7 linked regions of the Homo sapiens genome follow. The protein of the gene in region 2 interacts with the protein of the main gene of each other region in a pairwise test. Each region holds a gene or a part of one and is shown on either strand. Other genes may lie near its edges. The genes, in order: HTT, KRT33B, ARFIP1, NF2, ABI2, SPRED1 and CCT5.

Evidence for each region.
Region 1: the proteins of KRT33B (region 2) and HTT interact in binary tests that used the Homo sapiens proteins (3 or more experiments, as listed by UniProt).
Region 3: the proteins of KRT33B (region 2) and ARFIP1 interact in binary tests that used the Homo sapiens proteins (3 or more experiments, as listed by UniProt).
Region 4: the proteins of KRT33B (region 2) and NF2 interact in binary tests that used the Homo sapiens proteins (3 or more experiments, as listed by UniProt).
Region 5: the proteins of KRT33B (region 2) and ABI2 interact in binary tests that used the Homo sapiens proteins (3 or more experiments, as listed by UniProt).
Region 6: the proteins of KRT33B (region 2) and SPRED1 interact in binary tests that used the Homo sapiens proteins (3 or more experiments, as listed by UniProt).
Region 7: the proteins of KRT33B (region 2) and CCT5 interact in binary tests that used the Homo sapiens proteins (3 or more experiments, as listed by UniProt).

The regions. Positions count from the first base shown.
Region 1 is NC_000004.12:3,126,681-3,130,180, reverse strand, and holds part of HTT (huntingtin), read right to left. Parts: intron 2,918-3,500; coding exon 2,577-2,917; intron 258-2,576; coding exon 134-257; intron 1-133.
Region 2 is NC_000017.11:41,367,014-41,371,111, forward strand, and holds the start of KRT33B (keratin, type I cuticular Ha3-II), read right to left. Parts: upstream 2,801-4,098; 5' UTR 2,738-2,800; coding exon 2,390-2,737; intron 978-2,389; coding exon 895-977; intron 1-894.
Region 3 is NC_000004.12:152,880,954-152,884,453, forward strand, and holds part of ARFIP1 (arfaptin-1), read left to right. Parts: intron 1-9; coding exon 10-231; intron 232-1,769; coding exon 1,770-1,927; intron 1,928-3,500. UniProt on the Homo sapiens protein: Plays a role in controlling biogenesis of secretory granules at the trans-Golgi network. Mechanistically, binds ARF-GTP at the neck of a growing secretory granule precursor and forms a protective scaffold.
Region 4 is NC_000022.11:29,690,633-29,694,132, forward strand, and holds part of NF2 (merlin), read left to right. Parts: intron 1-3,500. UniProt on the Homo sapiens protein: Probable regulator of the Hippo/SWH (Sav/Wts/Hpo) signaling pathway, a signaling pathway that plays a pivotal role in tumor suppression by restricting proliferation and promoting apoptosis.
Region 5 is NC_000002.12:203,397,894-203,401,393, reverse strand, and holds part of ABI2 (abl interactor 2), read right to left. Parts: intron 1-3,500. UniProt on the Homo sapiens protein: Regulator of actin cytoskeleton dynamics underlying cell motility and adhesion. Functions as a component of the WAVE complex, which activates actin nucleating machinery Arp2/3 to drive lamellipodia formation.
Region 6 is NC_000015.10:38,322,336-38,325,835, reverse strand, and holds part of SPRED1 (sprouty-related, EVH1 domain-containing protein 1), read right to left. Parts: coding exon 3,427-3,500; intron 1,074-3,426; coding exon 1,027-1,073; intron 1-1,026. UniProt on the Homo sapiens protein: Tyrosine kinase substrate that inhibits growth-factor-mediated activation of MAP kinase. Negatively regulates hematopoiesis of bone marrow.
Region 7 is NC_000005.10:10,256,780-10,260,279, reverse strand, and holds part of CCT5 (T-complex protein 1 subunit epsilon), read right to left. Parts: intron 2,170-3,500; coding exon 1,977-2,169; intron 1,895-1,976; coding exon 1,745-1,894; intron 1-1,744. UniProt on the Homo sapiens protein: Component of the chaperonin-containing T-complex (TRiC), a molecular chaperone complex that assists the folding of actin, tubulin and other proteins upon ATP hydrolysis.

The sequences.
Region 1 (3,500 bases), on a different chromosome or scaffold from region 2:
TGGTCATTTTCATCAGCTATTCAGAACTCAGAAAACAGTATCAAAGGACTTCTTCTTGGAAGCAAAGATATAATTAAGATGTCCAGGTCTGAATACAAACCACTTTGTAGCGCATCACCTGTAGTCCACATACCCATGGAAGAGTTCCTGAAGGCCTCCGAGGCTTCATCAGGAAGAATACCTGTGGCTTCCTCATCTTCATCCTGGGGCTGTCCAATCTGCAGGCCCAAATACTGGTTGTCGGTACCGTCTAACACCTAAACGGTTCAAGGGGGGCTGTGAGAATTTTGAAGTGTGATCACCAAGAGACAAGCCCTCCAACATGGAAGTGCAATGAGGAAAGAGCACATTTTACACACAGAACACAAATGTACTCATCTGTCATTTATTTCAAGGCACAGAAATGCACGCATGGAAACTGCTAAGAGCTTACTGATCACTCATTCCCACTACATTATGAAAAGCTCTATTAGCTCTAAAAACTCCAAAAAAATTCCAATGTGGACATTTCTTTTTAATATGAAAAAGAAAAAACCCATACAAAAATATTTGTCTTCACAAACAAATTTTACAGCAAGTTGGAAATATGAGGACAAAGCTTTTCGACAAAAACCTAACAATATAACAGGTTATCTCCTAAATTGCAAAGACTAAATCTACTAAATTTAGGGTATGGTATTTCATATGTTTAGCCATCAGCTTGGGGCATGATTCCACATCACAAGATGTTTCATGTCCACTTGAAATGTCCTGTGTAATTTACCTAAAAAAACTGAACAATGGACTACCAGCAAATTATTACCAAAATACTATTTTATTAAGTTTGTTAACTACTATACTATTAAGTAAAACACTCAATGATATGAATGTTTTAAATTAAAATTGGAATGTAAAAGCAACTCCATTTCTGGGTATTTAGCCAAAAAAATGGAAAGCAGAGTCTCCAGGAGCTATCTGTACACCCACGTTCATAACAGCATGATTCACAATGGCTAAAACATGAAGCAATACAAGTGTCCATGGACAGAGGAATGGAAAAGCAAAATGTGGCCTATCCATACAATGGAATAGTATTTGGCCTGAAACATTAGGAAGTTCTAACATAGGCTACAACATGCATGAGCTTTGGGGACATTATGCTAAGTAAAACAAATACTGTGTGACTCCTAAAGTATATGAGAACCCAAAGTAGTCAAATTCAGAAGACAGAAAGAAGAATCGTGGTTGCCAGGGACTTGGCGGGAAAGGAGGAATAGAGTTCAATGGGAACAGAGCTTCAGTGTTACATGATCAAAAGGTTACAGAGATGGGTGGTAGCAATGATTCCATGACATTATTTAAATGTATTTAATACCAGCGAACTGTATACGCAAAAAATGGTTAAGAACATAAATTTTATGTTACACATATTTAACCACAGTTTTTAAAACTGAAAATAAAATGGAGTATAAAACTCAACATGGACTTGTAGCAAACATTATTAGACTATCCATGAGGGTTTTTTGTCCACTAACTTAGAGATGAGAAGTGCTTAAACCTATGCCGCTATCAAATGGGAAATGTTGTAAAAGTTTTTTGAAAAGTCAAAAGTTCTTAAAATAATGCACAGTATTAATCACATTTCATTAAGACCACAGATCTGTTTATAATAGGCTCCTTAAGGATTTTTAAAAATAATTATTTAACCAGGGCCCAACAAGGCCTTAAAAAATGTAAAATGCACTCAATTTTAGCAGAGTTCATATAATCAACTATTCCAATTTTTTACCTCAGTGTTCAACACAAAAGACACTAAGTTGTTTCCTTCAGTGAAGGTATCAGATGAGGTCAAGCTCTCCATTAATGATCTAAGCTGCGCTGTCAATAGGGGTATTAGATAACAAGAGAACAAGCAGGAGGGTTCAGGTCTAGGTCTCCAGGGAAGAACTCAAAAGATGGCAGGTGGCAGGGCCGGGCATGGTGGCTCACAACTATAATCCCAATACTTTAGGAGGCCAAGGTGGGTGGATCATCTAAGGTCAGGAGTTTGAGACCAGCCTGGCCAACATGGTGAAACCCTGTCTCTACTGAAAATACAAACATTAGCTGAGTGTGGTGGTGCCCACCTGTAATCCCACCTACTCAGGAGGCTGAGGCGGGAGAATCGCTCGAGCCTGGGAGGCAGAAGTTGCAGTGGGCTGAGAACGAGCCACTGCACTTTATTTTTTTATTTTTTTTGAAATGGAGTCTTGCTCTGTTGCCCGGGCTGGAGTGCAGTGTCACGATCTCGGCTCATTGCAACCTCTGCCTCCCAGGCTCAAGCAATTCTCCTGCCTCAGCCTCCCTAACAGCTGGGACTACAGACATGTGCCACCACGCCCAACTAATTTTTGTATTTTTAGTAGAGACAGGGTTTCACCATGTTGGCCAGGCTGGTCTCGAACTCCTGACCTCAAGTGATCCGCCTGCCTCAGTCTCCCAAAGTGCTGGGATTACAGGCATGAGCCCCTGTGCCCGGCCTCCACTGCACTATGGAGTGAGACTCTGTCTCAAATAAAAAATAAAAAAAAAGATGTCAGGCCCCTCTGCCCACTTACAATTTCAGAACTGTCTGAAGGGGTAACAGCTGAATCAGGCCCTTCGGTGGTGGTCTGGGAGCTGTCGCTGATGGGCGACGAGGCCTGGGTCCCATCATTCAGGTCCATGGCAGGGTCAGATGGGACGGCGCTGACCTGGCTGGAGCTGTGGCTCAAGATATCCTCCTCATCCCCATCAGTGGCAGAGCTTGTCAAGTCACAGCTGGCCAGATCCACTGAGTCCGCCTGCAGTGTGTGCTGTGACCGTGGCTGTTCTGTGATGATGTCATGACCTGCTGACCCTGGAGTGGAAACCCCTGAAGAAGCAGCCAGCTCTCCACTGATCTCATCCTTCACTGAGGCTGAAGACAGAGAAACACTCATTTGTCAAATGGCGAGAGAAAACATTCAATAGGGAATCACAGGCTTGCAAAATAACGAACAGTTCCACCGTTATCAAATGTTTCAGCTGCACAGCATCCTGAAGATGCTGAAATGCAGGACAGCAGTGCATCCTTCAAGCATCTCTCACACTGCCTCCCACTACAGTACCCACCTTATAAAATAAGGCTTATCAGAAGGTGATATTCTCAAATGCTGTTTCACTGCAAAAACCGAAGTTCAAGTTCTTAACCGACTACTCCAAGCCTTAGCTGGAGCAATATATAAAGACATTTGTAATTAAGGGGCAGCCTAGTCAGGGGCGCAAAGCTAGGCGGTCACAGACACGCAGGCCCTCTAAGCAAGCAGTGGTCAGAAACAACTGTCAACTCATCTCTCTGGGGTGGGCTTGCCTTCTTCCAAGCCACATTCAAGATCTCGACTCCAGTCCTATTCTCCTGGAAGATAAACCTGTAACACATTTTCCTAGTTGACTTTCTAAATTACCATTTAAAAACAAAAAAGGCTATATAAAAATTATGGCAAAAAGGTCGACATGAAGCT
Region 2 (4,098 bases):
GAATTCAGAGTTAGAGCCAGTATTCTCATTAAATGACTGTAGATAGATACCTTTATCTCTCTGAGGCTTGATTTCCTTAACTGTAAAATGAAGACAAAACTAACACCTTATAGGGTTGGACTGAAGATGATATATGTAAAATTATGTTGTAAAATGTAAGATCCCAGGAAAATGCAAAGGATTCTCATGATTGTAATAATGGTCATACCTAAAAGTATTGATTGATTCTCTGAAAGGCAATGGATTTTGCCTCCTGTTTTTGTGGTTTAATAACTTCTTTTTGGGGGGTTGACAGTGACTAACGTATACAAAGAGACCAATGTGAAAATCACTTTCAAACTTACTCCAGACGTTGGGTTGAAAAGGAGTAAGAATGGATGGTGTCTTACAATCAAACTTAAAGCACAGGGCTGCGCACAGTGGCTCACGCCTGTAATCCCAGCAGTTTGGGAGGCTGAGGCGGGTGGATCACTTGAGGTCAGGAGTTCAAGACCAGCCTGACCAACATGGTAAAACCCGGTCTCCACTAAAAATATAAAAATTAGCTGGGCCTGCTGGCGCATGCCTGTAATCCCAGCTACGAGGAAGGCTGAGGCAGGAAAATCACTTGAATCCGGGAGGCGGAGGTTGCAGTGAGCCAAGATTGCATCACTGCACTCCAGCCTGGATGAGAGAGGGAGACTCCATCTCAAAATAAAAAAATTAAAAAAAAAAACTTAAAACACAGAATCTGAGCACCTATTGAAGAGGCTTTGACATTTAACCTAATCCTAACCCAATGCAAGAATCCTCCCAATAGAAATTTCTGCTTCCACATTCCAGGATAGGGAGCTCATCACTTTGTAATTCAGCCTGTCCGTTACTAGACTGCTCTGATGGTTAGGAAAATCTTACTTGGTTCTGAAGTCATCTGCAGCCAGCTTGGCATTGTCGATCTGCACCACCAGCCTGGCATTCTCAGACTTGCTGCACAGGATCTGGGGATAGGATTAATCATGAAATGGGTTATACTAAGAAATGCCTTGTGCCTTAAAGTGAAATGCTATTTTCTTTCAGCCACATTCCTCCCAAATAGCTTTGAGTCCTTTCAGATTTTCAGCTCTGAGATAAAAGGAGGATTTGATCATAAAACTGATCATTTCAAAACCAGGACAACCAATGTGAATTCATCATGAATTCTATTCTTATCTGCTTCTGGCTTCCTGCAATAATTAGGTTACTGGGTATCCAACCCTTCGGTTGGGTGACCAACCATCCCAGTTAACTTAGGACTGAGGGGTTTCTGGGATGCTAAAATGGGAAAAATCCCAGGCAAGCCAGAACAACTTGGTTATCCAACACATTCCACCTGCTAACTTCTCTCCACTCTCCCCTCATATTGCCCTTGTTCATGCCTTTGCAAAAAGCTTCTTGCTGTACCCAGAATGCCCTCACCCACTAGCAAGACCCCTTGTGTAACCCACATACTTAATCAATAACACTTCTTATGACCTTTGTGTGATCATTTTGTTTCCACATCTATCTCCCCTGTTAGACTGTGAGCTCCTGAAGGAAGGAGACTGTCTTACTCAGTACATTATCCCCCACCCCAGCACTGTGCCTAACACTCTCCAACTCTGGGTAAATAAATGAATGATATTCAAATAGCACAACCCCTTTCTGGCATCTAATTTTCCAGATCTACAGAACAGTGGGCAGTCAATTCCCTCCCAGAATCAAGGGCTTGTACAATTGGATATAAACTCCCACTCATCCTTCAAACCCCACTCAGACATTGCCTCTTCTGGGATCCCTCCCAAACCTACACCAGGTATTCAGTCCCAATTCTCTGTGGACTCTTTACTTATATCTACTTCTCTTCCAGAACAGATGGCCCCATATTGTCATCTGTACACATGGCTGCTCTAGAGGATGGTCCATGTGTCTGTAGATATTGCTGGAGTCAACAGCTCTCTTGTGTTGCCATAAATGCTATATTTTGCTACAGCTTTGAAAGGCTTTAAATATTTGAAGATTTACTTAGGAAATTCTTAGCATAGAAAATAATTCAGGTGCATACTTTTTGAAAATGCGGTAATGCTCTGAAAACAAAACCAGGGTATCATAATCAAACCAAAAAATCAGATATTCTGGTTTGGAGTAAGACGCCATATAAGATTGCTATGACTGATTTTGGTCTAATGCTTCACTCTAACACCAGCCTGCATCCTTCCTTTGTGGCTCTACAACAGATTTTCTAAGACTACTTGATGTCATACCTAAGCCAGTGAATCTATGTCTTTATCATTCTCAGCATTACTGTGAACAGACTTAGATCCATTCACAGTTTAGTATGTCAAATATAGATAAGTAGTTCATTAAGCTGGCAGTGTGGTGCCCACCTCCTCACCTTCTGCTGGAGCTCCTCAATGGTCTTGAAGTAGGACTGGTAGCTGGGGCACAGCAAGGGCTCCTGCTGCTGAGACCGCTCCCGGATGAGGTTCTCCAGCTCCGCGTTGTCCCGCTCCAGCTGACGCACCTTCTCCAGGTAGCTGGCCAGGCGGTCGTTCAGGAACTGCATAGTCTCCTTCTCGCTGCCATTGAAGGAGCCCTCGCAGAACCAGTTGCAGTTGCTCACATTGGCAGGGATGTTGCAGGCCCCGGGCAGGGTGTAGCCGTGGCAGCTGGGGGGCACACAGGGCCGGGAGGAGCAGCTGGTGCGGCAGCTCAGGCTGGGCAGGCAGAAGTTGTAGGGCATGGTGCAGGGAGGCAGTGGAGCTCTGGAAGTCAGTTTCAAAACCTGATTCCTTTTCCCTGGGATAAGCCTTGGTCCTTTCCAGGGCTTTATATTCTGTTAGCAGTGGGTGTGGCAACCATGTCAAGTATTCCTCCTTTTTACCTCCTTTGCTGATTTTTCCATTTGTTATTTAGCCACTTCACCTGAGTCCTATACCTCATTAAATGTTTTACTCTGGCTTCTTGCTAAGTCAGGACTCCTCACAAAACATGCTGATTGGTTAAGTAAGAGCTTCATGGTTTGGCTTCAAAGTGACCAACCTTGCCTGTAGCAGTGCTTATCCATGGGACATTGAGCTAGAGTGACAGCTGGGCCCTGTCCCCAGAGTAGGGGGCACATATGTGCCTCTTTCTCCTAAATGAGGAAAGGCTTGTGTCTCATCCAGTTCATATTCAATTAAGACTCTGTGAGAAAAGCCATGTAAGGAAACCCGTCTAGAAACTAGACTATGTGATAGGGAATCCTGGAAGCTGAAATGAGAAAGGACTTACAAGGCCATTGGTTCAAGGCCCATTTGCAGTTCCATCCAGGCAGATGGAGGCAACTCTACCCTCTTCCTATGGGGCTGCAGGAAGCCACCCACCTCCGTTTCTACTAGTATTCAGTGTTCACAGAACATTAAGAAACCTAAATTTTGGGAGCACCTACTCTGCATGAAGCACTGTGCTCCATGCCTGTGCACAGCGTGACTCTGTCATTGGTGATGGGTCCTGCTTGCTGAGCCTCCACTGTGCACCAGGCACAGTGCCAGGCACCTCATATGCACCAGCTCCTTCAGTCCTCTCAAAATGCTGCAAGGGTTTGTAGATAAGGACCCTAAGCCTCTGAGAGGTCTCCCAAGGTCACAGAGCTCCTACATGATGGAGCCAGGGTTCAAATACAGATCTCTCTAATTCCAATGTCCACACTCTGTCATATTACATGTCTCTCTCTTCCAATCTTTTCAGTACTGAGATGCAATAATGCAAAAAATACAGATTGAGCTCCATTGAGCTCAATCAGTGCTGACAATATCCTAAATTAGAATGGGCCAAAAAATAACAAGCCTGTTTTTTACTTATTAAAGAACCAAAAGTCACTTCTATGCTGAAGGAAGGAAGTTTACTAAGTGAAAATGCCTCATACCCACTAGAAGCTTGAAAAAAAAAAAAAAAGGAAACCCTTGGTTGATCTGAGGGAGAAATACCCAAGCCTAGCTCTCCAAAGGATATGACCCTGAAAATCCACCACTATGTCATGTGCATGAAGTGGCATTTTATGACCATTGGCACATTTTGGCAAGCAGATGCTCTACTCTCATGCATTCCAGATGGAACTATGAA
Region 3 (3,500 bases), on a different chromosome or scaffold from region 2:
CACTTTTAGTGTACTCGACAGATTATCTCTGAGAAGCTAGGCCGTGGCTCAAGAACTGTGGACCTTGAACTTGAAGCTCAGATTGATATATTAAGGGATAACAAGAAAAAATATGAAAATATTTTAAAACTGGCTCAAACATTGTCGACCCAGCTTTTCCAGATGGTACATACCCAAAGGCAACTTGGAGATGCATTTGCTGACCTGAGTTTGAAGTCACTAGAACTTCATGTAAGATTATTCTAAATAACTATTAGGGATGGGAGAAAATGATAATAGAAGTATTCTAAGAGGTAATTTGTTATTGTGATTTGCTGAACTCTTAATGAAGATGGAATTCTGAGATTCTCTTTTAAGATATTTCATATCACTTTAAGAAGGCCCTCTTAAAGTGATATGACTTCTGTTAACTTTACTTTTTATGAATTATCATATGTATATAAATCTTTCATATTTTTCTTCCTGTTTGTTAATATTTTATTTTGCCTTTTACTCCTTAATCAATATCAAGGGTTACTGTTGTAATATGTTCTGTTAACTTTTTCTAAAAGTTGTAAAAATGTTGTTTTCTGTATTATTCTATTTCCAGTAACATTTATGTAGACTTCAGTGAAGTGTGTAACTTAGCTTGTGGAAATTTGGTGCCAAAAATCTTAAGCTGTCCTGCTTTTCATTTTAGTTTTTACATGCATTGATTGGTAATCTTTTTATGTGGTCCTTTATCTGCCAATATTTGCAACAAATCAAGGTCTATAATATTTTGAAGACTGAGTACAGAGTGGAGTTACATGGACATCTCTTAAATGGAAAATGGTTTTAGCATAATAAGGATAATTTTACTTTCCTGCTATTTTCTGAATTATTGAATACTTTGTCACCTAAGAAACGTAATTACAGCTATTGCAATAGCATTAAATTTGTATCTTCTAATATTTTAGTTAATTTAATATTACATTATTTGTTTCAACTGAAATTGAAAAGTGTTTTGTAACAAACTGGAGAATTATCAAATTAAATGATACATCTTAGAATATGTGATCGGTTTTTTATTTGGTTAGGTGCATCCTGATTAATCTGTTAATTAGTAAAACTTGCACTGGAAAGCTTTCACTGCTGAATATACAGAGCTAGAGTTAGTTCTTGCCATATCTGAAGGAGTCATGTGTAATGTTTACTGCACCAAGATGCAGTTTATTCAAAAAGAATGAACTAAAGCTGGTGTTGAGTGATCCTTCCTCAGTTGTGTGCCTAAATAGAGCTGAGCTTGGGAGTCAGCTAGTCACCAAGTTTACAAAGAAATATGTATTGTTAATATTTATACTTTGAGGAGAATCAGTCAAAACACAAAAAAAATGCACTTTGTTTTATGTCTGAAAGTTTTAACCAATTATTACCTAATTTGGCTGTGAAAGTTATAGTTTCTCTGATTAATAATCTGCTCTATTTTTCTTTCCAACAGCTGTGCTTATAGTATAATAGAAACAAAATGTAGAAATGAAAATATTGTTTCTACTACAAAGTAACTTAAAAAAATTATTTAGCTTTTAGGTATGTATCTGAGCTGATGACAATTTTGGTTTATTAGACTTTTTCAGTAATTATATGGCTAGCTGTGATTTCGATTCTTAAAGACGGAAAGGAAAAGTAAAACTGCTACAGCTAGATCTCTATCTAAATCACATATTTTCCCATTAGTGACGTGCTTGAGATTTTTAAGTCACTTTTACTGATTTATTACTGAATAAATTAAGGTGACTTCTTTGTTTTAGGAAGAATTTGGCTATAATGCCGATACCCAGAAACTGCTGGCTAAAAATGGAGAGACTCTTCTTGGGGCCATTAATTTTTTCATTGCTAGTGTGAACACTTTGGTGAATAAAACCATTGAAGATACATTAATGACTGTGAAACAGTATGAAAGTGCCAGGTAAGGTATACATTTTCACTGTGTTGTCTGTTTTACAGATGGCATATAATTCAGTTAATTTTTTGGTTACAAACAACAGAAACCAACTCTGGCCAATATGGGCAGGAAAAAAATGTACTGGAAAGTTATAGGATGCCTCTACAGACCTGGCAGAAAGGGAGAGAACAAGATTCTGGAAACAACCAAGAACCAAAGCCAAGTTAAGCCTCAGAAGAATCTAATTAGAACCCCTATGCTGGGTGCCTCTAGTACTTGATGCTGCCACAGCTACCATAAATAATTTCCTAAATACCCATGAATACTTGCTTCATTGCCTTGAGATTATCTAATTGAGCCTTGGTCATGTGCCCAAACCCTGCCTTCTAGTGAGTAGGGAAATGGAGGATCTCCCAGCTCTGGCTTCTTTAGAAGAGGACAGGGCCCTATGTTCTACCAGGTAGGTATTACATGGTCCTCTATACTCTCGCCTAAATTTACCTTTCATCCTTATTACCACTGCTTCCACAATAGCCAGACCCATACTTTCAGTTTCTATTGAATAAATAAGCTCATTTTGCCTCCATGATTTTTGTTTGTTAGGATATCAGTCATCTTCCATTTATCCAGATTATAACAAGCCTTCAAACCCTTTCAAATTTTACCTTTTATATAAATTAAATATTTGACTTGTATTTTGATAACTGTTCATAATGCAGTGTTTTTATACATCCTATTTTAATGGGTTTTTGTATATCCATATTCATATATATATGTATATATACAGTTTCCCTGTCTCATAACTATCCTGTTAAATGGTGAACAAAATATATATTAATAAATATATTAATAAATATTTTGAAGGGTCTAAAATATGGCAGACCTATAATAGCCTTTTTCACCTTTTGATTCCAGGCCCAATTTTTTCCCCATATGCCCTACCCCTTTTATTTAAGTATCATTCTAGTCCCTTTTGAGGTTTTTTTCTTTTGAGCACTCAAAATTCTTATTTTCCATTATACTTTTTATGCATAGTTGAAGATAAACTTTACCTTTTAGAAGGATAACTTTACTCTTTGGCCTCTTATCCTAGTTTAATGGTATGAGAAATACCTGTAAAAAACTCCAAACTCATCTAGTATTTTTGCAATTGAGTGCTTATTAAATATATATTTCCTTACACTTCAATTAAGTAAAAGCCCAAATCATTTTGAAAAGTTAATTTTTGATGTTTTCACAGGAAGAGATGCTTCTGTCCCATACCATGTTTATTTTGTCATTTTCCATTTAGTATTAAAGTATGAGATTCTTATTGACTTGAAAATGAAGGTCAAACAGCTGTGGTTGTATGGAGGGGTAAGGGTGAGGATAGCTGTTAGTAAGATAGCCTTCCGTGGAAATCTCTTCAATAACATTCTCAGTAATTGGTGTTTCAGTCTCAGTGTAAATCCTTTCATGGAAATTATATTTTTCAAAGGGTTCATTATGTATATGAATTTTAAAATTCATTTATATAAGTTTTACTTGATCCTTTTCTAAATTTTTCTGTTCCTTGTTCATAATGTCCTAATTTGTTCATAATGGTACTGTTTCTTTT
Region 4 (3,500 bases), on a different chromosome or scaffold from region 2:
TCCTCAGAATGGAATTGGATTAGTGACAGACTTGAGCAGCCGGTTCAGTCGAGAGAGAACTTAATTCCTCCTGTGTTATTCACACGGCTGATTCTAATCAGATGTGAAGAGACAGCTGGAGGAGAGCAGCGGGTCAGCCCATGCCTGGTGCGGAGGCTTCATGTTCTTGTAGGCATCTTCAGGGAACTGGCAGGAGCGCTTTGGGTTGGAGACTCTGAGCAGGGCCCTTGGGTTTATAGCCTGCCCAAGGAACTGGGCCTGGCTGCGGGACTCCCATGGTTGGACCTTGTCTAGATTCAGTGAAAGTTTTGAAGGACAGTGCATGACAGACGTCACTGGTCAGGTTCACCAGAGCTTGGCTCACTTGTCTTCAGAAGGATTCAAAGGCAGTTGACCAGACTTGGCAAGTCCCAGACTGGTGCAGCCACTGTCCTCGAGACCCTGGTTGTACACCCTGAGGTGCTTCTGCTTCATTACCTGCTGAAATTTGGAGACCTCTTCTTCCTGGATAACCTTCAAGATACTCATTGTGCATGCGAGGAATTCCCCGCCCTCCTGGGGGGACTCCACTCCCCAGGCAGGCAAGGTTGGGCAAGGGGAGGGCTGTTGCTGGATTGCCAAAGGGAGCATGGACATTTTTGTTTGGAATTCAGGGTGGGAATGGGACTCACCAGAGTGGCTTCAGTGCTCAACTCACAGTGCAACATAGGACAAGGTGAAGGCCTTCTTGGGAGGCCTCTTCTGGCTCTAGCAAGCAGGTGTTGCTGGGCAGTGTAGAGGGACCCAGGCCGGTTGCTGAGCAGGAAGATGTACCTAACACTGATGGGCCTGCACACCTTAGGGTATGAGAGCATCGCAGGGGAACCAGGAAACTTGTTAGCTGGTTTTCATGTGTTTAAAAAGAAGACTCGGAGGCAGAGTTTATTTTATGAAGGGCTAGCTTTTTGCCATTTCTTCTGAGCTTTTGCCTTTTCCTTTATGAATACTTCCTGCCTATGGGTGTACTGTAAATGTAACAGCCAGTGAGCTTTCTAGAAGCAGCAGATGGTGAAAGATCCACAGGTGAGGAGCCTGCCCACTGGAGGGGCGAGACAGTGCCCAGGCAGGGCGTGCAGGTGGCAGAGCTGTTTGCATGCTCCGCGGGGTGGCTTCCCAAGCTCTCTGTAGAAAAACTGCCTGAGGGCAAATGGCTCCACTGAGCTGCTACCTGCAGGAAAGAAGCTCAAGGGCTCTCCTCGTCTCACTGCCTGCCTTCTTCACCTGCTGGGAGGAGGGCATTGTGGTGTCTGAGATAAAGGATACCCCCAAGGTGGAAGCAGAGCCATGGGGGTGGCCTCCAGCAGCAGGGAGGAGCATTGTGCAGTAAATTCTGACTCCGGGGCTCCTGTGGGGATTGGAACCCATAGGAATTGCACAATGAGGGTAAAGGATGGGGCGGCAGCAGCCAGGTCTGTCTAAGGGGCGAGCAGCAGTGGCCGAAGGCTCCCAGGGCCCTCGGGCAGCAGCCCTTGCTGACCAGTGCAGCCAGGTCGTGGCTGCCTCCAGCTGGTGGGTCTGCCTTCCCCTCTGACCGCCTCAGTGCCTTCTGGAGGACTGTGGCTCTCTCTCCTGCCCAGTGGCTGTGGTGCCTTCCTACTTCTGTGTGGGCAGACTGATTTCCCTCTCTACCTTTACTTGTGGCTGAGGCGAAGCTCCTGCTCTTGCAAGATAAGAGGTGGGGCTGAGGCGCTGCAGTGCAGCTCAGGTGGGGCTCAGGAAGCACCCCACCCACCCCAGAGCACTCTGCATCCTAATAAGCACATGCTCGAGTCACTGGAATCTGGTGCTGCTGGCAGTGCCAGAACCCTCCCCTAGCACCTCGAGGGGACAGCCAGCATGCTCCTCGGGTGGAGGATCCAGGAATTCTTGGAGCCAACATTGCACAAATGGGCAGGAGCCTCTCAAGGCCCCCACAGCCTGGGCTCCCTGCCTGGGGAAGTGGCCAGGCTTCATAGGGGCATCACTTGGCCCGCCTGGTAGGCATGGAGGCCAGTGCCATACGTGACCTTGTTGTTGCCTGCACCCCTTCCTAACGAGCACCCTGCTCCCCACTGGAAGGAGAGGGGCCAGGGCTCCTCCCTCCCCAGGGAGGGGAGAAACGTGATGTTGCTATTAGCAATAACAGCTGCCGAGTTCCCACCATGCGCCAGGTGCAGTGTTGAGTGCATCACACGCGGTTCCCAATTCCTCTGCCTGTCACCCCACGAGGAAGGGGCTGCCATCACGCCCGCTTCACAGTGAGGAACTGAGGCTAGAGGGGAGCAAGTGACCTGCCCAGGGCCACACAGCTGGTCAGTGGCCCAGCTGGGCCTTGCACCAGGCAGCTGACTGTGCCTGTATCTGACTCAAAGTGGCTGTTCTTTTCAGAAACCTGAGCGGAGATACTGGGCTCACATGCTTTCATTTAAACCCTCTCTCATTTTTGCCCCAGTAGTTATCTGGCAGCTAAATCTCTTCCTCCTTTCTTCCCCAGTGACCATTCTGGTTCCCATCATCACAGGGCACATAACTCCTGGCCCTTCTCCTCTGATTACATTTAGGGAGAAGCCCATCCTGATGCAGCTCCCTTCTAGAGGGAGTTCCATTTAGGCAAAAAAGCGCTCTCCATTCCCATCAGAACCGGGCTTTCCAAAGGGCTCTGAAATTGGTTCCACTGAAGAAGGCAGCTGAGCTGCCTCCCCACATTCCGCTTGTTAGTCGGGAACTTCAAGGCCAAAAGATTTGGCAGGATTTAAAGAGTTGCTCTCAAGCTGTCTCATTCTGAGCACACTAATGCTGTCTGTCTTCTGATGGTGAAGTGGTGGGTTTGGAGTCTCCCTCCCCTGCCCTTTATGGAGCCGCCGATAGTACCGAGGACTCTTCACATGCAGACTCGAGGGGTCCAGAGAATGGGCCAGACCATCTTGCCTGCCCCATGGCAACCTCCAGAGGAAAGAGGCTCAGAGAGGTCAGGGGTGTCTGCAGTGAGCTGCTGATGGCAGAGAGTGAGCTCTCGGACCTTCTCAGCCGGGTGTGGAGCTCTTGCCTCTCCCGCGAACCTCAGTTTAGTTATCTTCATAGCCCACGTCCTGGTCGCTTAACAAACATTGAGCTCCTGATCGGCACATAACACTAAGCCAGATATTTGGGGGATATGAAGATGAATGGTACAGACTCCCTCCCCTCCACCCCCGCACTCCTGTGGGAAGTCCCGGAGCTGGAAATGGAACACAGTCACACCCAAGGCATTGATTTCAGGAGTCAGCAGAGAGCAGGGAGTAGGGAGAGTGCTGGCTCCAGATGCTTCTATCCAGGGAGATGCTGGGAAGTGGCCCAGAGTCAAGGGCTTAGGAGGTTGCAAACCTCACTATGCCAAGAGCTCGGTCCCTGATCCACCCCATCCCCTTCCACATCTCCCTGACTGTCCTTCTTTACATTTGCTGGGCAGAGTGCCACCTGTGTGCACCAGCCCTCCCTGCCTG
Region 5 (3,500 bases), on a different chromosome or scaffold from region 2:
AGCAGACAAGGGAGAAGGGGAGGGCAAGAGAGAAGAGGAGGCGGAGAAATAAGCAGGTGGAGAAGAAAGCGGAAAGGGGACAGGAAGGTAGAGGAGGAGGAGATGAAGGTGGAGGAGGGCAAGAGGATAGCAGAGGGGAAAGGAAAGGAGAAAGAGAAAGGGAGAAAAGGAGGAGATAAGTGAAAAGGAAAAAAAAAACACTTTTGCTAAACCCAACAGGAAGCCAGAGGGCAAAAGAATCCACTGAAACATTTCATGGAGGTCAGCCTACTGGAGAAGAGGGGAGAGTAGAGGAGGGGGGACTGGAGGAACAGATGATACCTGGCACACTCATCTATCCATTTGTGCCTAAGGTTATCCTGAAATTTTTTAAATTCTAAAATAAACTACTTGAAACACAGTGAGATAAGACTTATGTAATATGGAATTTGATGAATGCTTGATTTGTTGAAATCTTCATGATCAAACACTGCAGTCATATCCTCTTCCAGGCTTCATATTTCTCAGCTGAGTCTTACCATCTTTATTCTACCTTAATATGAGACTATCTTCTTGGTAATTTTAATTAAAAGTATTAGAGGAAAACAACACTTTGACAATTTTTCATCTTGTCTATGATTATAAAATGGTTTTATATGACTAAAATTGTTCTACAGGAGCTGAAAGTTTACCAAGCTTAGATTCATATGGAGTCATATAAGGATTATAAGAGCACTCAAGGCTTGTTATAACATTTAAACATCTTACATGTGTATCAAAAACTTAAGCACTCAAGCTTAAACATAATCCACTATCAACTGAGAAGCCTCTGTAACCATGATAAAAATGAAAACATATAAACTATGATTTAAAAGGCATATTTAGTTATTTGAACCACTGAATACAATTAGCATTTCAGTAATTAATCTATAGCAAACTAATACAAACCTACGATCAAGTTAAAAACATCTGGATTAACATCATTATGAATTTTATATAGTTAGATCTAGTCTAAAACCTCACATGGGCTGGGCATGGTGGCTCAGGCCTTTAATCACAGTACTATGGGAGGTGGAGGCGGGTGGATCATTTCAGATCAGGAGTTCAAGACCAGCCTGACCAACACGGTGAAACTTTGTCTCCATTAAAAATACAAAAAATTAGCTGGGTGTGGTGGCTCACACTTGTAATCCCAGCTCCTCAGGAGGCTACGGCAGGAGAATCACTTGAATCCAGGCAGCGGAGATTGCAGTGGGCCGAGATTGCCACTGTATTCCAGCCTGGGTGACAGAGTGAGACTCTGTCTCAAAAAAAAAAAAAAAAAAAAAAAAAAAAGACACTATTCACACTATTAATGAGTCGATTTACCATTTGGGGTTTTAAAAATATATATACCTAATTATCATAAACCTAGCGATAAAACCTGAAACTAAAAACTTCTAGAAGAAAACACAGAACAAAATCTTTATGACTTCAGGTAAAGAGTTCTTAGATATGCCATCAAAGCACGATTCATTTAAAAAAATTTTGAAAAATAACACTTAATAAAAATGAAGAATTTCTGCTATTTGAAATACAACATCAAAAAAATAAATGAACAGGCTGGACCCAGTGGCTCACGCCTGTAATCCCAGCACTTTGGGAGGCTGAGGCGGGCGGATCACCTGAGGTCAGGAGTTCAAGACCAACCTGGCCAACGTGGTGAAACCCCGTCTCTACTAAAAATACAAAAATTAGCTGGGCATGGTGGTGGGTGCCTGTAATCCCAGCTATTTGGGAGGCTGGGCAGGAGAATCGCTTGAACCCGCGAGGCGGAGATTGCAGTGAGCTGAGATCCTGCCATTGCACTCCAGCCTGGACACCAAGAGTGAAACTCTGTCCGCCCGCCCCTCCTCCCCCCGCCAAAAAAATAGAAAATAAGCAAACGAATCACAAAATGGAAGAAAATATTTGTAACTCATAATCTATAAAGGACATATATTTAGAATATAAAAGAACTCAATGATAAGGAAAAAAACCCTATTAAAAAGGTGAGAAGGAACAAAACATTTGAACAGATACTTCACCAAAGAGGATATACACATGGCAAATAAGCACATGAAAAAAATGTTCAATATCATTAGTCATTAAGAAAATGCAAATCCAAACCACACATGTAATGAGAAACCATTACACATGTATTGGAATGGCTAAAGCTAAAAAAGGCAACACCAAGGGCTGACAAGGATGCAACTGGAAACTCACACATTGCTGCTGGGAGTGTAAAATTATACAGCCATTTTGGAAAACAACTTGGCAGTTTCTTATGACGTTAAAAATTTACTTACAATATAACCCAGCAATTCTATTCCCTAGGTATTTACCTGATATAAAAACCCATGTGCACAAAAAAAACCCTGTATGTACATGTTTATAGCAACTTTATTCATAAGCACTCAAAACTAGAAAAATCTAAATGTCCTCTGAGAAAGGGATAAACAAATTGTGGTACATCCCCATACAATACAACACTACTAAGCAATAAAATGTAATGAAATACTTAAACATGCAACAACATGGGTAATTCTCAAATGCATCTGGCCAAAAAAAACAGATCAAAAAAGCTACATACTATATGCTTTCATTTATGTTATACTTAAAAAGGCACAACTTTAGAGAAAAAAAACACATCAAGGGCTTACCAGGAGCTGGGAGTGGAAGGGAAGGACTGACTATAAAGGGGGCATGGAGGAAATTTTTGCGATGATAGGACTGTTCTGTAACTTGATTGTGGTGGCAATTACATGTCAGTACACCTTTGCCAAAACTCACAAACATATATGGTATAAAGGGTGAATTTTACTGTACATAAGTTATACCTTGGTAAAAAGAAAAACAATTGCTTGGTAACTCAGGTACTGTATAAAACAGACTATCCTGATATAAATTATTAATAAGACATTTACCTTGCTTTTTGTTTTAAAAACCACAGTTAATTATCCCCTCACATAACAAATGTTTATTTAGTGAACACTGAGCCAGGCACCTGTTATTCAATTAATATTTAATTACTAAAACATAGACTCTCAGTTGGGGGTGATTTGTCCTTTCTGATGCATTCTTTATCAAAGCAGGAGCATAACGAGATTCCTATATTTAACTAGTTAGTTTGGCCTAACAGTTGTATCTGGATCAAAAAACACCCCATGTTTACATTTATCTACTGCAGAAAGCTTTTCTTTAAAAGTCATATAGAAGGAATCCCACAAGACATCACCCAAAATCCATTTTGGCTAAAAGTGTCTTTTAAAACATGTAAAGATCTTATATATGTTTAACATGTATAACAGCAAAGCTGAATATAAATGCCATGAAGTTCTTCACTGGCAAGTGGAACACTACGGTGATTGATATGCTTTGAATCTGTGTCCCTGCCCAAATCTCATGTTGAATTGTAATCCCCAATGTTGGAGGTGGGGCCTAGGGGGAGGTGACTGGATCACAAGGGCGGTTTCTCATGGTTTAACACCATCCCCCTTGGA
Region 6 (3,500 bases), on a different chromosome or scaffold from region 2:
GCTCAGGGTTCCTCATAAGGTTGCAATGAAAACATGCCACAACTGGTCATCTATTAAGGCTTGCTTGGAGCTGAATAACCTGCTTCCAAGGTGGTTCACTAATATGGCTATTGTCTGAACGCTTCAGTTCCTCACCACATGAATATCTACACAGTGTTGCTTGAATGTCCTTTTAATATGGCAGTTAGGCATCCTCCATAATGTGGGTGACCTCACGCAATTAGTTGAAAGGCATAAGAAAAAAGATTGAGGTCCTCTGAAGAAAATAGAATTCGGCCTTCTCATGACTGCAACATCAACTTGTGCCAATTTTCAGCGTGCCTGCCCATTCTGCCAACCCAGCCCACAATCTTATGAACCACTTCCTTAAAAAAGAAAAAAAAAACCCCAGAAACTTTACTTTCTATATAAAGATTGATATCTCTTATCTGAAATGCTTGGAACCAGAACTGTTTCAAATTTCAGAATATTTGTATGTGCATAATAAGACATCTTAAGGATAGTACCCAATTTAAAGATGAAATTTATGTTTATACACCTTATAACACACAGGCTGAAGGTAATTTTATACATGATTTTAAATAATTTCGTGCATGAAACAAAATTCTGACTGCATTTTTAGTGTGATTCATCACATGAGGTCAAGTGTAAATTTTTTCTACTTGAGGTGTCATGTCCATACTCAAAAAGTTTCGGATTTTGGGGCCAGGCACGGTGGCTCAGGCCTATGATCCCAGCACTGTGGGGAGGTGGGTGGGTTGCTTCAGCCCAGGAGTTCGAGACCAGCTTGAGCAACATAGCAAGACCTTGTCTCAAAAAGAAAAAAAGTTTCAGATTTTGGAACATTTCAGATTTTAAATTTTCAGATGAGGGATGCTCAACCTGTATTGGTTCTTTTCTTCTGGAGAAATCTGACAAATAGAGTGTCTTAGAAATATTCTTAGTAATTGATAAGTTTATTGAATAAGGCTAGTGATTTCTTCCACATCCTTTATGTTTACAAATTCCTTCCAAGCCATTACTTACTTGTAAGTCATCTGCCCCTTCAGCTTCATTTTTTGATTCGGGGCATCCTAAGAAAATAGATAAAAGTTAATTAAGTATAGAATTTTTGTCTTAGAGTCCAGTATTAATGACTAATTGATTATGTCATTATAATACTTTAGAAGACTAATCAGAGATCTTTCTGGACTGCCTGGCAATTAAGGTACTGGCCACTTGCATTTGCCCCTGTTAGAATAATGGAGAATAATGTAATTATTTCCCTCCTCTATAGGTAAATTTCCAGCTGCTTACTAACGAGATGTTTTCTCTGAAAGTATACTATCTCTAGCTACCCCTGCCCCTAGTTTCTCCCAAATACTCAAAATTACTAGGCAGATTATAATTACATTGCTCTGGTGATGCTAAGATGTGATTTATTCAATTTTTCTAAATGCTTTGACCCAGGAAACAGTATTTAGTACCCATAACCAGGATTTTAGTTGCTTTAGCTAAGATGGAAAACAAATGAGTTTTAATCCACTATTGACAGTTAATGGCCAATTGTTGTTACTGACTTTTTTGCATCAACGTCTCTGTACAGATTTTCATGCTGTTAAGAGTACCTTTAGTTTCAATAAATTAATAAGAAAGGATTTGTCCTAGCAAAGTACTCTTAGTTCATGCTACCCTTGAGAGGCACAGCTTAGCACGGAGTAGGCATGAGATAAGAAGAAATGCGCCCTTTGGAAAGAGCAGCATATTTTATCTTTTTGTCACAGAAGGTCGAGTAAAAGCAATTTGAGATTGTTGAAAGTCTATATAGCAGCTGATAATAATGCTAGCTAATGTTTTTTAATGTTCAAAAATAACAAGGCAGACTAAGTACTGTAGTCTACTCTACCTAGAAGTTTGTAAGCTACTCCTTATAAATCATTTTTTAAAACATTAAACCCAATCTGTTTGATCCTAGTGAAAGAGGTATACTGTTATGGTACATGAGCATAAACTTAAAAGTAATTCAAAACTTTAAATCATATAAATTCCAGCAGCCATGGATACTATTTTTCTCTCTCTTTAAAGCACTGGTTCTTCAAACCTGGCTAAAGGTTAGAATCAACTGAGGAATTGTCAAAAAATACACTGATGCCAGAGTATGGCGTCAAACCAAAATATATCAGAATCTCTGTGGAATGAGGCACAGAACATCATGTATTTTTTTTTTTAAGTTTCTTATTTTTTTTTCTTCAAATTCAAATTACAATTCCTTGACTAGAGAACAATTCTTCACCATATTTGAACTTTCTTGGAGTTTTTGAAAAATAAGGGATGACTCGACTCTATTCCCCAGATAGATTCAATTGGTCTGGAGTGCAGACTAGTCATTTTAAGCTTCAAAAGCTTCCCAGGTGATTTTAATGTGTAGCCAAGGTTAAGAACACTGATCTAAGGAGAATTTATGGGGTCTTACAATAAAGACAAAATGGCTACTATTACTTCATAGTAATTTTTTCTGGATCAGAATAAAAAATTACTCATTTACCAAATTCTAATCTTTTAAAGTAGCTAAATAAATTACTTAACTACAGTTTTATGCACTATCAAAACAGATTTGTACAATGTATTTCCATGTTCTTGCCTGTGACTGGTCTCACAGTTTATGTTTTCAGATTTTCTTATTAAAATGACATCTTCAAAATAACACAAATCACAACGTAGTCTAGCACACTTTCAGTTACTTTATATAGAAAGTTAGTTAAATTGAAATAATTTTCCTCCTAATTAGAAAAAAAAATCAAGTCTTAGTTCTTCCTTTATGGGAAGAAATGGGTTTTAATGTGATTTTTGTTTAAGTAAGCATAAGCCAGTCTTACATGAAAAAACATTATTCTTCCCTTCAAAACCTGTATGCTTTTGAGTTAATAATTTTAATAGACTGGCAAGATAACAAAGGAATAGATGAGCTTGTGGTCTCTGCCAATCCTCAATAATGAAATCAATCAAGTAAAGACTTTTGTCATGGAATAACTAGAGTCTACATACATTTGAATATTACAAGTTCTATATAATTACCCAAAAAAAGGATGTGACTGGTGTCATACATACACAAGTAGAATACCAACTGGGATTCTCGCAGCTGTACATTTCTATTCCCTCTTCCTTCAAGCTCTTATTTTAAAACATTTGAATTATCTGAAGTCAGCTGTTGATGGACTCTTCAAGATAATACATGCAATTGACATAGACTATGATGTGACAAATACAAATCACGTTAAGGAATCTATTATTTTATCTTCATCTATTGTGAGGTTTCAAAGCCTGGTCACATATCACAAAAGCTGACATGGTTAAAGTGTGAAAACTACTTTGGGTCAACTTTAAGAAAGATAACCTCTACTATATATAACCGATAAATAAATTAAGAAAATAGTCAAGAATACCTACCTTGAGAAATATCCTCTATAGCTCTTCGGATACCTCTATCAAAAGCCCTAGCATCAGCAGGACTTTGAAACGTA
Region 7 (3,500 bases), on a different chromosome or scaffold from region 2:
ACCCCGACCTGCAAATGGCAAAGTCACTTTTCCCAATTAGGAGGGCAACGATCAGGCTGCCCACCCCACCTCTGGTGCTCACCTGGGACTGCCACACCGTGCCCCACAACTCTGGCTTACCTGTCTCCATCAGGCCTCCCAGGCTACCTGCTACTGCCTGGCTCTCCCTCTCTTCCTTCCCTGACCCTCTGGAACTCAGTCCAGAACAGCAGCCTCCTTATACAATCTCTCCGTCACAACCCCGGAAAACCAACCTGCCCCTGCAACCCTCCTCAGATGGCAGCTGCTTTCCCTCTCACATGCTCAGAACAGGAGAGGGTCCTTCTTGCTCCTCAGTCACCTGCAGTGTTCCTCTTTGGGTCCCTGCCTCTCATTCTTTAACATTTTACTATCTAGCCCCATCGTCATTCCCTTCTCATTCTCAGCAACCTGCGCCTCACCAGCACGATCCAGTAACATCCCTGGCCTCTCAATTTATCTGTGGCCCCCCAGCACAGCTGAGGCACCATTCTCATGAAAACTGTCCCACCGGCCCAGATGATGGCCTTTTATTTATAAGCTCCCGCCAGCATGCTTCAATCCCTGAGGCTGGCTCTTCCTTGTACAAGCCAACAATGTTCCTGGCTCAGGAGCATCCCCATCTGTCCTCAGCCTGGAATGCTCCTCCCCCAGGGGCACTGCTCTCACCCTATGTTGGCCTCTCCTTACAGGTCACCTCTCTGACCAGTGTCTGTAATGGAGCTGTACCCACCTTTCTCTTATCTGTGTCTCAAGAGCACGAGCTTGGCTTCATTCCCTGCTGTACCTTTAGTGCCTACAACAGAGCCTGGTATGTCGTAGGCACCAAGAACCGTATCATCAATGAGTACATTCAACAACTTTCCCAAGAACAGACATGAAAATAGTCTCTAGTTGGTTTGCTATGATAAATAATACCCTAACCAACCCACGTTCCTGTCTTCTTGAGTACTGGTGTTTTCAACTCCCAAGGACGCAGCCCCCAAAGAGGAGTTGCTATGTCAGAGAGAAAGCACACCTACGCTAAGGTATTCATGAACCCAAACTAGACTTAACTGAGCAAAGAACTGGGATTACTATGAGTGCATTCTGGTTTAACTCCAGTTACTCATTAACTCTTGCCTAAAAGGTATAGTCAGAAATCTTAAAGGCAAGGTAAGCTAAGTTAAATTTGTCCAGGACGGCAAATATAATATGTACAATTGAAAGCACGGCTTTAGGTAACAGGGTCACTTCTTTCAGGACCCTGAACACACTACCATTTTTTTTGAGACAGAGTCTTGCTCTGTCGCCCAGGCTGGAGTGTAGTGGTGCAAGCTCAGCTCACTGCAACCTCTGCCTCCTGGGTTCAAGCGATTCTCCTGTCTCAGCCTCCTGAGTAGCTAGGACTATAGGTGCCTGCCACCATGCCTGGCTAATTTTTTGTGTTTTTAGTAGAAATGGCGTTTCACCGTGTTAGTCAGATGGTCTCGATGATCTCACGATCTGCCTGCCTTAGCCTCCCAAAGTGCTGGGATTATAGGCATGGCCACTGCACCTGGCCTGAACACGCTACCATTTTAAGACAAAATTAGAATTCTTCCCTGTTTATGCCTTTCTATGCAATTTGGTTTTTTCCTGTGTATGTTTTAGAACTGAAGAAAGACTACACATATTTACTAACCAAACCTAACTAACTGTACCCTTTGGGAGTTTAAATTCCACTGAGGACTCTGGTAAGACTTACTTGTTGAATCATCTCTTCAAATTTCTCCTTTTCGTATTTCTGAAGGGCTTTATAATCTTCGACAGAGGTCACATCCAGCTTATGCTTTGTTTTTGGTTTGGGTGGTTCAAATGGACATGTGAGAATTGCAATCTTCGCATCTTCCACTTTCTATGGGGGAACATAAAGACATTTTAATTGGTGGAATTAAGAGTTAACCAACAGTGCGAAGCTGTGAGATGCAATGGCTCACTTTTGGCATCTGTGGGTGACTGAAATCCTTGTCCACAATCACGCCCTTAATCAGTTTAGTGTCCTCCAGCCTGCCGCCCACTTTGCCTTCTACTTTGATAAGCTCAAAGTCAACGTCTCTCCGCTCCATATCTGCTACAGTGAGGACGGCATTCACAGCAATCTCAGCCATCTGTCGGTGACAACTGTTGACCCTGAGGAAAACACCACAAAACAAACTTCATTGGTTTCACAATTACTGCAACCAAAGCAGGCCACATAACACAATGTTACTCAAAGATATAAATCAAACGATGTTTTGAGTCTTCTAGAGGGGAATGCCATCTCAACCTGCATTTTCAACAGTCTGGGGCAGATTCTTAACCTGTGATCCATGGGCCCTAAAGGGGACTGTATACTTAGATAGGAAAAAATTACATCTTTATTTTCGCTAACTCTGAAATTTACTATTTCCTTCCATTATGAATGTACTCAAGAAACCACTGTAGTCTGGCATGAATTAAGGTCTTCTTAGAATGCAGCACTTTTACAGAATACTGTTACTATTTTACAAGTTCAGAACAGAATGGGAAAGGTAAGTAATCACTCAGGAAGAGTCACTCTTATCTCAATGAAGTGTAGCACTAACCAGGAACTGAAAGGACTGGACAGGGCATTTAAACTTTCCAAGAATTCACCACAACATCCATTATAGATGGAGGGTGTTACCTTTTTGAAAGCTTTGAAACATGTGAATAGACAGTTCAATAAATTAATTTTTGAGCCAAGAAAAACAACTAGGGAAACCTAGCACTTGAAATAATGTCTGAAATCACAGGTTATCTATAAAAGAGAACCATGAAAGTAAACATGTTGTATCTTAAGTAGATGACTTAATACTTGCAAACAGAACAAGGCCAACTTATAAAGCAACAAGAAAACTGATTTGTACACTTCAAGTAATGATGATGTCCTCCTTTCATGAGAAAATAAGTGTTATACTTGTGACAAGAGGCTACCCCTAGGGTACTCACTCTTGCCTAGGGAGCTAGTCTCTGCTGAGATCTGTGGTTAGAGGAGGACAGCAGGCATTGCTGAAGGCTTCTGCTCTAACATAGGCTTTGCTCAGGGGAAAAGGCAACAGAAGCAGACACTTTTCCTGCATTTTCCCTGACTACTCTGAGTTTAGAAGATCCCTCATTCCTTTTTGCTAAAACCACCACAAGCACACAATTGAAAACATCTCTCACTGATTTAATATAATGTAATAAAGCAGCTTACACTGGATTTTTATGTTATATTACGGCAACAGACCTTAAGTCTTTGGCATTGTACATAATCAGCGCACCCCTTGGCTGAGGTTGCTTAGAGTCTCCTGGGAGAAGAGCTGTGTCTTAGTGCCCATAAGACCTGGCAGTAAGCCTGGCAAACGGACATTACACGAACGCTGAAAACACCAGAGACAAGTCGCTTTCAAGACTCTCTTTACTAAATTATAATTTTGGATCGGCAATTTGCTGAATAAAAAGTGGAACCCACCCCCAAT